Regions from separate parts of the Homo sapiens genome. Here region 2 is linked to region 1. The links come from fine-mapping of genetic effects on gene expression. Tissue or cell type: monocytes after R848. Region 1 holds a variant in brackets; the other region holds the start of a gene. All regions are shown on one strand. Distances are between the middles of the regions.

Region 1 (4,520 bases):
GGCTGTCTTCCCATGCAGCATTCCCAGCAGCTTGGGAAACAAATCCTTCCTTTATTCCAGCAGCGTGATCTGGGAAGTGCCTTACAACCTCCACTCCATAAGGTGTCACTTTTGTTAATACTAAGTTACCATTTATCAGATGCCAAGCAATAAGCTTGCTTATTTCATCCTCACAGTAGCCTTATGAGGTTGGAGTTATTAGCTTAATTCTGAAGATGACAAAACAGAGACTCAGGGAGGTTAAGACGATTTCCTAAGGCCCCACAGCAAGCAAGGGATCAAGCGGTGATTCCAACCTTGGTTTTCTGACTTCAAAGGTTTTCTGATTTTCCATTACACCAGCATTTCCCAATGTGTATTCCTCAGAACAGATGTTAATAGGTGTTACATAAAAGAGAGAACAAAGACTGTCAAAAGGCTTTTGGAAATCTTGCGTTAAACATAAACAAGTTGTCTTACAGTAGTTCTTCTCAGAACCCTTAACATGCTAACACACAGCGTGACTCTGCAAGAGAGATATTAATGTGCATTACTTCCCAACCTCATTTAAAACAGAATTGCTTTGTTGCAGCTGATGATGCATTGGGACATGATGCATGGCCCTGATCAGTCTCCTTCTGAAGGCTCTTTCCATGGGAAAATTGAAGATGGGATAATTCTCCTTTAAAATGTGCAGTCCTTAAGGAGTCTGACAACTCCTTGACGCTCCTCCACTTTCTCTCTTGCCAGGAAGGAAACTTTCACAGGGCTTTCTTACATAAGGAATGGAATGTAGAGTTTACACTTTGTTGCCTTTGGTCCTGATTTAGAAATAACCAGTGCAGGATGTCCTGGTTGGAGGATGGGGATAGAGAAGCGGGTTAGCCTCTGAGCAAGCCTTGCACTATCATGCTGGTATAAGGAGGCCTTTCCACATCCCCATCCAAGCTTTGCCATGGCCAGGTCCCCATTTCCCATAGCTGATGTTCTGGATGGGGGTTGTCAGGGACTCCCTCTGCACCAGAGGCTCTGGTTTTAGTGCTACATCTTGAAGTTGACATGTATACTGTATATAATTTAAAAACTTACAATGACAACAAACAATACTGGCAACTTTAAATCCCCTCTAAAGAAGGTTGGAGATGCCTCCATTGGGAATATTTTTTAGTGTTTTATTTTAGGTTAGTTTGTCTGTAAAATAAAGATGAAAAATCAATCACAATGCAAAGTTACTTTTGCTAAAAACCTTTTCTTTAGCGAGAAAATGCTGAGGACGGGCAGAGGGTGGGCAGGCAGATGGGAGTACAGCCTTCTGCTCTGCGGCTGGGCTTATTACCCAGGTCTGCGGGTCGCCTGCACCGCAATTTGCCTCCAGGCAAACTTCCACCTGAAATGTAGGGTAATCGAGGCCTGCCCGGAACTTGTGGAAATCAAACCAAGGGCTCAGTTTCAACAATTCTGGTAGAGGATTAGAATCCATGTCAACTCTGTTACCAGAAGGATGGCCTTGAGTGTACGATGTCCAGGTTCTTGGCGTTTTGAACAAAGAACTGGACAAAATGCAAAGCAAAGTAACGAAGATGACACAGGAACAAAGAGGCAAAAACAGGAATTTATTAAAGCGAGAAAGCACTCCACAGGGTGGGGGTGGGCCGGAGCAAGCGGCTCAAGGGCCTGGTTACAAAGTTTTCTGGGTTTTAAGTGTGCCTTTTGAGGTTCTTATCCATTACCCCTTATCTGGATGAAGGATTTGGTCCGTGGCTAATTAAAGGCTGAGGTGAATTGGTTCTCTGTGCAGATGAAGGGATTGTCCCTGCTTGGCCTGAGGCCAATCCAAGGCACTCTCCCTTTACGTCTGAGACGTGGTGGAAGAAGGAGGGTTGTAGGGAGAGTAACCTTTGACCCTTTGCTACTGGGGCTTGGGGAGATGGGGTTTTACCTTTTGGTTTAGCTTTATGAAGTTTGCATTAATTAGCCTTAGGGTCCCTGCCCCCAGACCCAGGTGTTTTCCTTTTGATCCACCTTTGGGAAGTCAGCATGGATTGACCTTAGACTCCCTGCCCCCAGACCTTTGTGTTTTCTCTTTTAGAAAGTCAGCACAAATTGGCCTCAGATTCCCTGCCCCCAAACCTTGGTGTTTTTCCTTCATTCAACACGAATTGGCCTTAAGTTCTCCATCTCCAGACCCTATTCTCCTGCCTCTTAACCACGGAAAGGTGCTGGCCTGGTCACTTGCTAATCTTAGGATGGAAAGACTCTTTGTTGGGTATGATTTTGGAGACTGAACAGATTTAAGCAGAATTCTTGTGCACCCCCCTCACCAATCTCACTT[C/T]TGCTAACATGTAGGTAGTTGAAGATTTACAGAGTGTATTTCCTACTCTTGGTGGAAAATGAAATTCAGGAAGTGAAGGTTGAGACTTGAACTTAGCATGCCAATCCTGACCATTTCTGGCCTGAGGGATGACTCACCCTTTAAAGTTTCCCCAAATGTCCCCCTGCTCCAACCCTGAACGTCCTGCCTCAGATCACAAGGGGTCTCAGCACTTGGTTACCAGATGAACAGACTCCTAGGGTGGAAGGAAGGCAGGGAGCAGCTATGGGGGATACTTTTAAAGTAAGACCATATAAAACTTTAGAAGGAAAGTGATTTGCCCAGCCTTGAGAGACTTTCTTTAAAAAATTCATAATTGAATAAAATAGAACAGATTGGTTGTGAAACCGATTATTTTGAGTGCTGGTTACAGCAAGTCTAAGTTGGAAAAGATCTTATAATTTTGTGAAACTCTTAATTTCACAAGAGAAGGGCCCAGAGAGGTAAAAATTATGTCTCTTAGGCCCCACAGTCGTTAATTGTAGAGGATTGAACAAATGTCTAGATATACTCAGACCACTTGACTGCTTCCCCTTCCTACCATCAAAACAAAATGAACTGACCCCTCAATCAAAAACTGAGATATATTCTGGTAGGAATGACATCATTTTATTATTATAAAACTTCCTAAAAGGTGGAGTTTCAGCAATAGCAGTAACTGCATTAATGAATATTTAAGAAGTAATAAAGGGAAGGCTTGAATTGTGTGAACCACGAAAGCACTAAATAATCTAGAATTCAGGTAGGGGTTTTTGATTATAAGCTTGCATCAGGTCTGTTTTTGGCATTTCTTGGAAATGAAGTAATTCACTGCAGGCTTGTCAAGAATTGGTCTTGGGGCCGGGCGCGGTGGCTGATGCCTCTAATCCCAGCACTTTGGGAGGCCGAGGCAGGTGGATCACCTGAGGTCAGGAGTTCGAGATCAGCCCGGCCAACATGGCAAAACCTCATCTCTACTAAAAAATACAAAAATTAGCAGGCGTGATGGCGTGCACTTGTAATTCCAGCTACTTGGGAGGCTGAAGCAGAAGAATTGCTTGAACTCAGAAGGCAGAAGTTGCAGTGAGCCAAGATTGCACCACTGGACTCCAGCCTGGGCAACAGAATGAGACTCTGTCTCAAAAAAAAAAAAAAAAAAATTGCTCTTGACATGGTCTCATGTTCTCTGCTTGAGAAATCTCCATTATATAATGGAATATTTTGAGTAGCAAGGCAAAGTGACTAGGAATGACAGCTTGCTTCAACTGCTGTCTGATCCAGGGCAAGCTTTTCAGTTTCTTCATCACTGAAGTGAGAAGAATATTACTGACTATCTCATAGAGCTGTGGAGATTAAATGAGTTGCTAATATAATGTCTTAACAGCCCTGCCTGGCACTAGTACACACTCTGTAAAGATTAGCTGTTATTATTACCAAGAAAGGTTGCAGTACTTAAACTTTCTTAAGTGGTCTTTTGATAAAGATCCCCAGGACATGGTAAGAAAAAGGACGGTTAGTCTCTGTATGTAATGGTGATAGACAGGGAAACAACAACCACAAGAAAATCTCAGATCAGTGATTTCTGTTGGAGACCAGATTATTCAGTACCGAGACTGGAAAGAAGGAGTGTCTCTCCTATCAGGTTTGGGGTTAAAGTTTCAAATTGTAATTCAATTCATTAAAACATTGCCAAATATGGCTATTGGACAGGTATTGTGCCAAATACCCAGGAATGGGAGACAAGGATGGTGAGCTTACACACTACAGTCTAGTGACCTGGAAAATTCCATGACACTGGCTGAAGGGAATCACTCTATTTACTCTCGTTATTGCTGTTATTTGTAAGCTTCCAGAGCTTTATTTATTTTTCTTTTAGTTCTTTAATTATTCTCAAAGTTCAAACAGAGTTAGATCCACAGGATAAAACAGCAGATAAGGCCATCTACAGAAGGGACTTACGAGGATGTGGCTAGATAATATTCAATGAGTGATGTGTTAACATTCTTTCCACCCATCCAGTTGTCATCTGAAAAACAACCTCAGGTCAGGAAATTAGCTCAGGGTAGACATGAGAAGCTAAGGTTTCTTCATAGGAGGTTTTTGCTTTGTCTGGAGATCAGTATTATCACTACTAATTTTTTCCTCCTATATGATAATTTATCACATGTCACACAGATGGGCTCAAACCCTG
Region 2 (4,000 bases), 23 kb before region 1:
AATTAAAAAGTCAGTTCAATAAGCTGAGAGGGTAGCATCCTAAATGAAGTTGTTGTTGTTGTTGTTTTAACAGTTTTAACGTTTGTGCAACAAATAATTGAACAGGGTTTGTTTGTTTTTTTTCTTTTTAGAGGATCCAAAGGTATAGGTAAGAATGACAAACTCTTAATCAAACAAGGAAGGGGCAATTTCACAGAATATTGCCACTGTTCTCTGAAAACAGGAAGAGCACAGACGTGTAGAGAAGTAAAACCAAATCAAACCGCATGCACAGGGCTTCACTGATCATGACTGGAGTGCATGTTACATTCTCTCTAAAAGCCCCTCCGGTCTTCATTTCTGACATCAGGTTCTAAAGTCAGAACACTACGGTTCCATTTTGCCCTTAGACACACCGGTATGAAGTTCCACTGGGGGAACAGTGCCAAGCATTCAACACCCTGACTGATAAGCAATATATTCAGAAGTCAATCCAAGTCTTCAAGCTGATCCCCTTCCTGGTGGCCCAGACCATGGCAACTCTTCTGTGCATTTGTTGCCTCCTTTACCCTTTGGGACTGGGGGAGGAATGAGATGGGTGAGAGGGCAGTGAGGGCATGGAGATTGGAAAGAAAAAAAAAATGTGTACTTTAAAATTCTGAAATAAAAGGTAGTGTCTAAAAACTCAACAACCTTCTTGGAAGATTTCATGCATTTCTTAAAATTTCCCCTGTCACTGCACCCCCAGCAAACATGCTGGTGGTGAAGGTCCGGGAATTCACACAAAGGGATGCAGTTACCATATGCCCTGGAGAGGTGAACTTTCACCCACTTAAACAGAAAAGAAAAGCCCGGAGTTCCTCTCAGAGTCATGGGCTAACCTCCATCCATTGTTAGACGGTGGAGCCCCAGAGGGGAGTAAGGCCACGGCGCCCCCCAGCCCGGCATTTCCACCAGCTCTACAGTGAATGAGCAGTCGGCCAGCCTTCCGGTGGCGCCTCCACGGTTCCTCCTCCTCGTTTCCTAACACCGGCGCCTCCACAGCAGGTCTCGCCACCCGAAAGCTAACATGCCCCTTCGCAGAGCCCAAAAATAGCACCGCCCTGGGACGTTCAGCTGGAGAACCAGCAAGGCCCCTACACGGCCAGGCAGGGCTAAGCTGGCGGAGCGTGCCTCAGTTTCCCTGTTGCTAGGGCCGTTCACAAAGCACCCAAAATGCCTAGCACCCCGCTTTACGACAAATCTCTCCGCAGGGCGCCACCCCGTTCCGCGCGCCCCGGGAGACCCCCACCCTGGAGGTAAAGGGATGGAGGCCAAAGCCAGGTCGGAGGACTCGGGGGCGGTGCCCGGGGCTGGGGTTCGGGTTCCCAGAGAGAGCCAGAGCCCAGCCTGTATGGGGGTCGGGAGGGTGAGCCCCAGGAGCAAAGGGATCCCCGGGAAGGAGGACAGGCTTGGAGTCCCGGGGCCGGGAATCCATCTGAGGTCCGCAGATCGCGAGGGGAGACCCGGGTGAGGCAGGAGCTCCCATCCTTGGAGGAAGGGGATCGCCCAGGGACAGCAGGGTGGGGAATCCCCAGGGAACTGATCCCTGGCCAAGGTGCGGGATCCACCCAGGATGAATCCAGGTGAGGAGCCGGGAGCCGTGCGCTTAACGGCGGGATTTGGGAACCCGCTTCTGACACGGGCAGCGGGACCGGGACGCCATCCCTCTCACCGCTGGAATCGATTCTTGAACCGCATTGATCCTCTGCTCCTCCTCGGGGGCCAGGAGCTCCGTCTCGTCAGCACCGGCGGCCGGGCGCGCGGCCCTCATGGGCTTGGGCTGCTCCGGAGGCCGCCTGCGTGTCCAGCGGAACCCTTCGGCCGGGTAGGGTCGGAGTGGGCCAGGCCGGGGGTCGGGACAGGGCTGGGGCCAGACCGGGCGGCTGGGGGCGGGAGGGAGGCCGCTTCAACGGCCCCAACACCTCCCGCCTCCCGCCTCCCGCCTCCCCGGCTCCTCCGCCCCGGGGCTCCTGCGCCCCGCCCCGGAGCCCGGCTCCGCCCCCGCCGGCTCTGTTCGCCTGCGTGCACCCGCGGTCGCCGGCGCGTCAGCGCGCCGGTCAGCCAATCGGCACCCCGAGCGGCGCGGCGGCTACGCTGCCATTCATTCCCGCCGGGCTCGGGCAGCGAGGCGGGGCCTCGCTGGGGAGGGGCGGGGCGAGGGGAAGGGGAGGAGCGCGGGAACGCGGCGCCCTTCTGTAAGAGACAAGTTGGAGAAGAGATCGAGGGAGGGAGAGAAGTGGTGAAGGAGGAGATGGACCAGGAAATCTTAAAAGCATTGTGAAGAAAATAGCAGCAAACAAGCAGCCCTACCTCATTCATTTTTTCTTCATCATTAATTTCTCCATCCCTCCTTTCATTTATTCCTTCATCATTTTGAGGGCCAGCTCCCGCGAGGCTATTGTGAGAGGATCCAGGGCAGAATGAAAAACCTGTCCTTGTCTGACCCTTGAGGGAGTTGAGATCTCTGAGCGTCTTCTAACTCTGAGATTCAGTGAGATCCACAAAAGGAGGAATCCTCTGCAAGGATCCTTTTATGTTATCCTCCAGTTTATTTTTTATTTTATTTTATTTTTATCCAGGCAGCTTTCAAATAAACGAGTTGACTTGAATCAGGGTCCTGTCGCTAAACCTAAACTCAGAGGGCTTCCTGGAAGAGAAGTTCAAATAAAAATGAATGAATGGGCCAGGTGCTGTGGTTCATGCCTGTAATCCCAGCACTTTGGGAAGCCAAGGTGGGCGGATCACCTGAGGTCAGGAGTTCGAGACCAGCCTGGCCAACTTGGTGAAACCTTGTCTCTACTAAAAATACAAAAATTAGCCGGGAGTGGTGGCGGGCTCCTGTAATCCCAGCTACTCGGGGGGCTGAGATGGGAGAATCACTTGAACTTGGGAGATAGAGGTTGCAGTGAGCCGAGATTGCACCACTGCATTCCAGCCTGGGTGACAGAGTGAGACTCTGTCTCTCTCTCTCTCTCTCACACACACACACATACACACAGAATGAATGAATGGGTGATTTGTCGAGCCTTTCCAGGATCACTGATGGAAGTTATATGTGTTCCCTTCCAGGTATCGTGTCCATACCCAGCCCCCAGCCTGCAGGCTAGAGACTCTGAAGTGGCATGAGGCCAGCCTGCTAGGAGTGCTCATTCGACCTACAGTAAAGCATTGGAAAGCCAGGGAATTCTGTCACCCATAATTCTAGTTCCCTTTCCTTGAACCTTCCAGAGAGGTGCTTTCCATGCTTCAATCTTCCCAAGAGCTCCTCCAGATGGGCATTATCCAACTTATTTTACAGATAAGGCTGAGGCTTATAGTGGTCAATAAACTTGCCAAAGGCAAAAGTAAGGCTCCTACCTACCTTTCGCTAACTTTAAAGACCCACCTCCTTTCAGTACGTCAGACTATCTCTCCCTGTTTTAAAGCAATACACTTCTCTAAAACAAAACAAACAAAACAAAACTTCATCTACCCGCACCCTCAACACTAAATCGGGAAAATGAACCTGGAATGAAAGTCTGCTTCTTATCAGCTATGTTGGGCCACTGGGCTAAAACATCAGTGCGGGAGGGGAAGGTAACAAAGGAGATAGCTAATAAAGATAGATGAAAAATAGCCATGTGTAATAACATAAGAAGGGTTAAAAAATAAAACAAGGAAGCTCAATTGTAACAGATGTACCACACTGTTGGGGGATTTTGATAACAGGAGAGGCTATGTATGTGTGGGAAATCCCTGTACTTTACTCTCAATTTTTGAGTGATCCTAAAACTTCTCTGGAAAAAAAAAAGTCTTTTTTTTTTTTTTTTTAAAGGGCCAGGCACAGTGGTTTGCACCTGTAATCCCAACACTTCGGGAGGTCTAGGTGGGAGGATCGCTTGAAGCCTGGAGATTGAAACTAGCCTGAGCACCAAAGCAAGAGTTCATCTCTAACAACAACAACAACAAAATTAGCCAGGTGTTGTGGTAGGCACCTGTA

Direction of the effects. Alleles are on the strand shown, and positions count from the first base shown. SD is a standard deviation of normalised expression in the study named.
For the expression in monocytes after R848 of the gene that starts at base 1,859 in region 2, allele C in region 1 goes with a higher level than allele T (moderate effect, 0.70 SD a copy in Quach 2016).

Evidence for each region. PIP is the estimated chance that this variant, and not a neighbour inherited with it, causes the effect.
Region 2: it holds the start of MMD, and the variant in region 1 is fine-mapped to the expression of MMD in monocytes after R848 (Quach 2016, PIP 0.95). The same link has a PIP of 0.9 or more in monocytes after Pam3CSK4.

Annotation. Positions count from the first base shown.
Region 1 is chr17:55,442,760-55,447,279 of GRCh38, forward strand. No RefSeq gene overlaps it. Among named protein-coding and RNA genes, the nearest start is that of MMD, 23 kb to the left of the region's middle. The variant C/T (reference allele first, on the strand shown) is at 2,312.
Region 2 is chr17:55,419,977-55,423,976 of GRCh38, forward strand. MMD (monocyte to macrophage differentiation associated) reads right to left here and starts at 1,859. Exons shown (of 7, transcript NM_012329.3): 1 at 1,694-1,859. The coding sequence starts at 1,719. RefSeq lists a silencer at 1,800-2,259.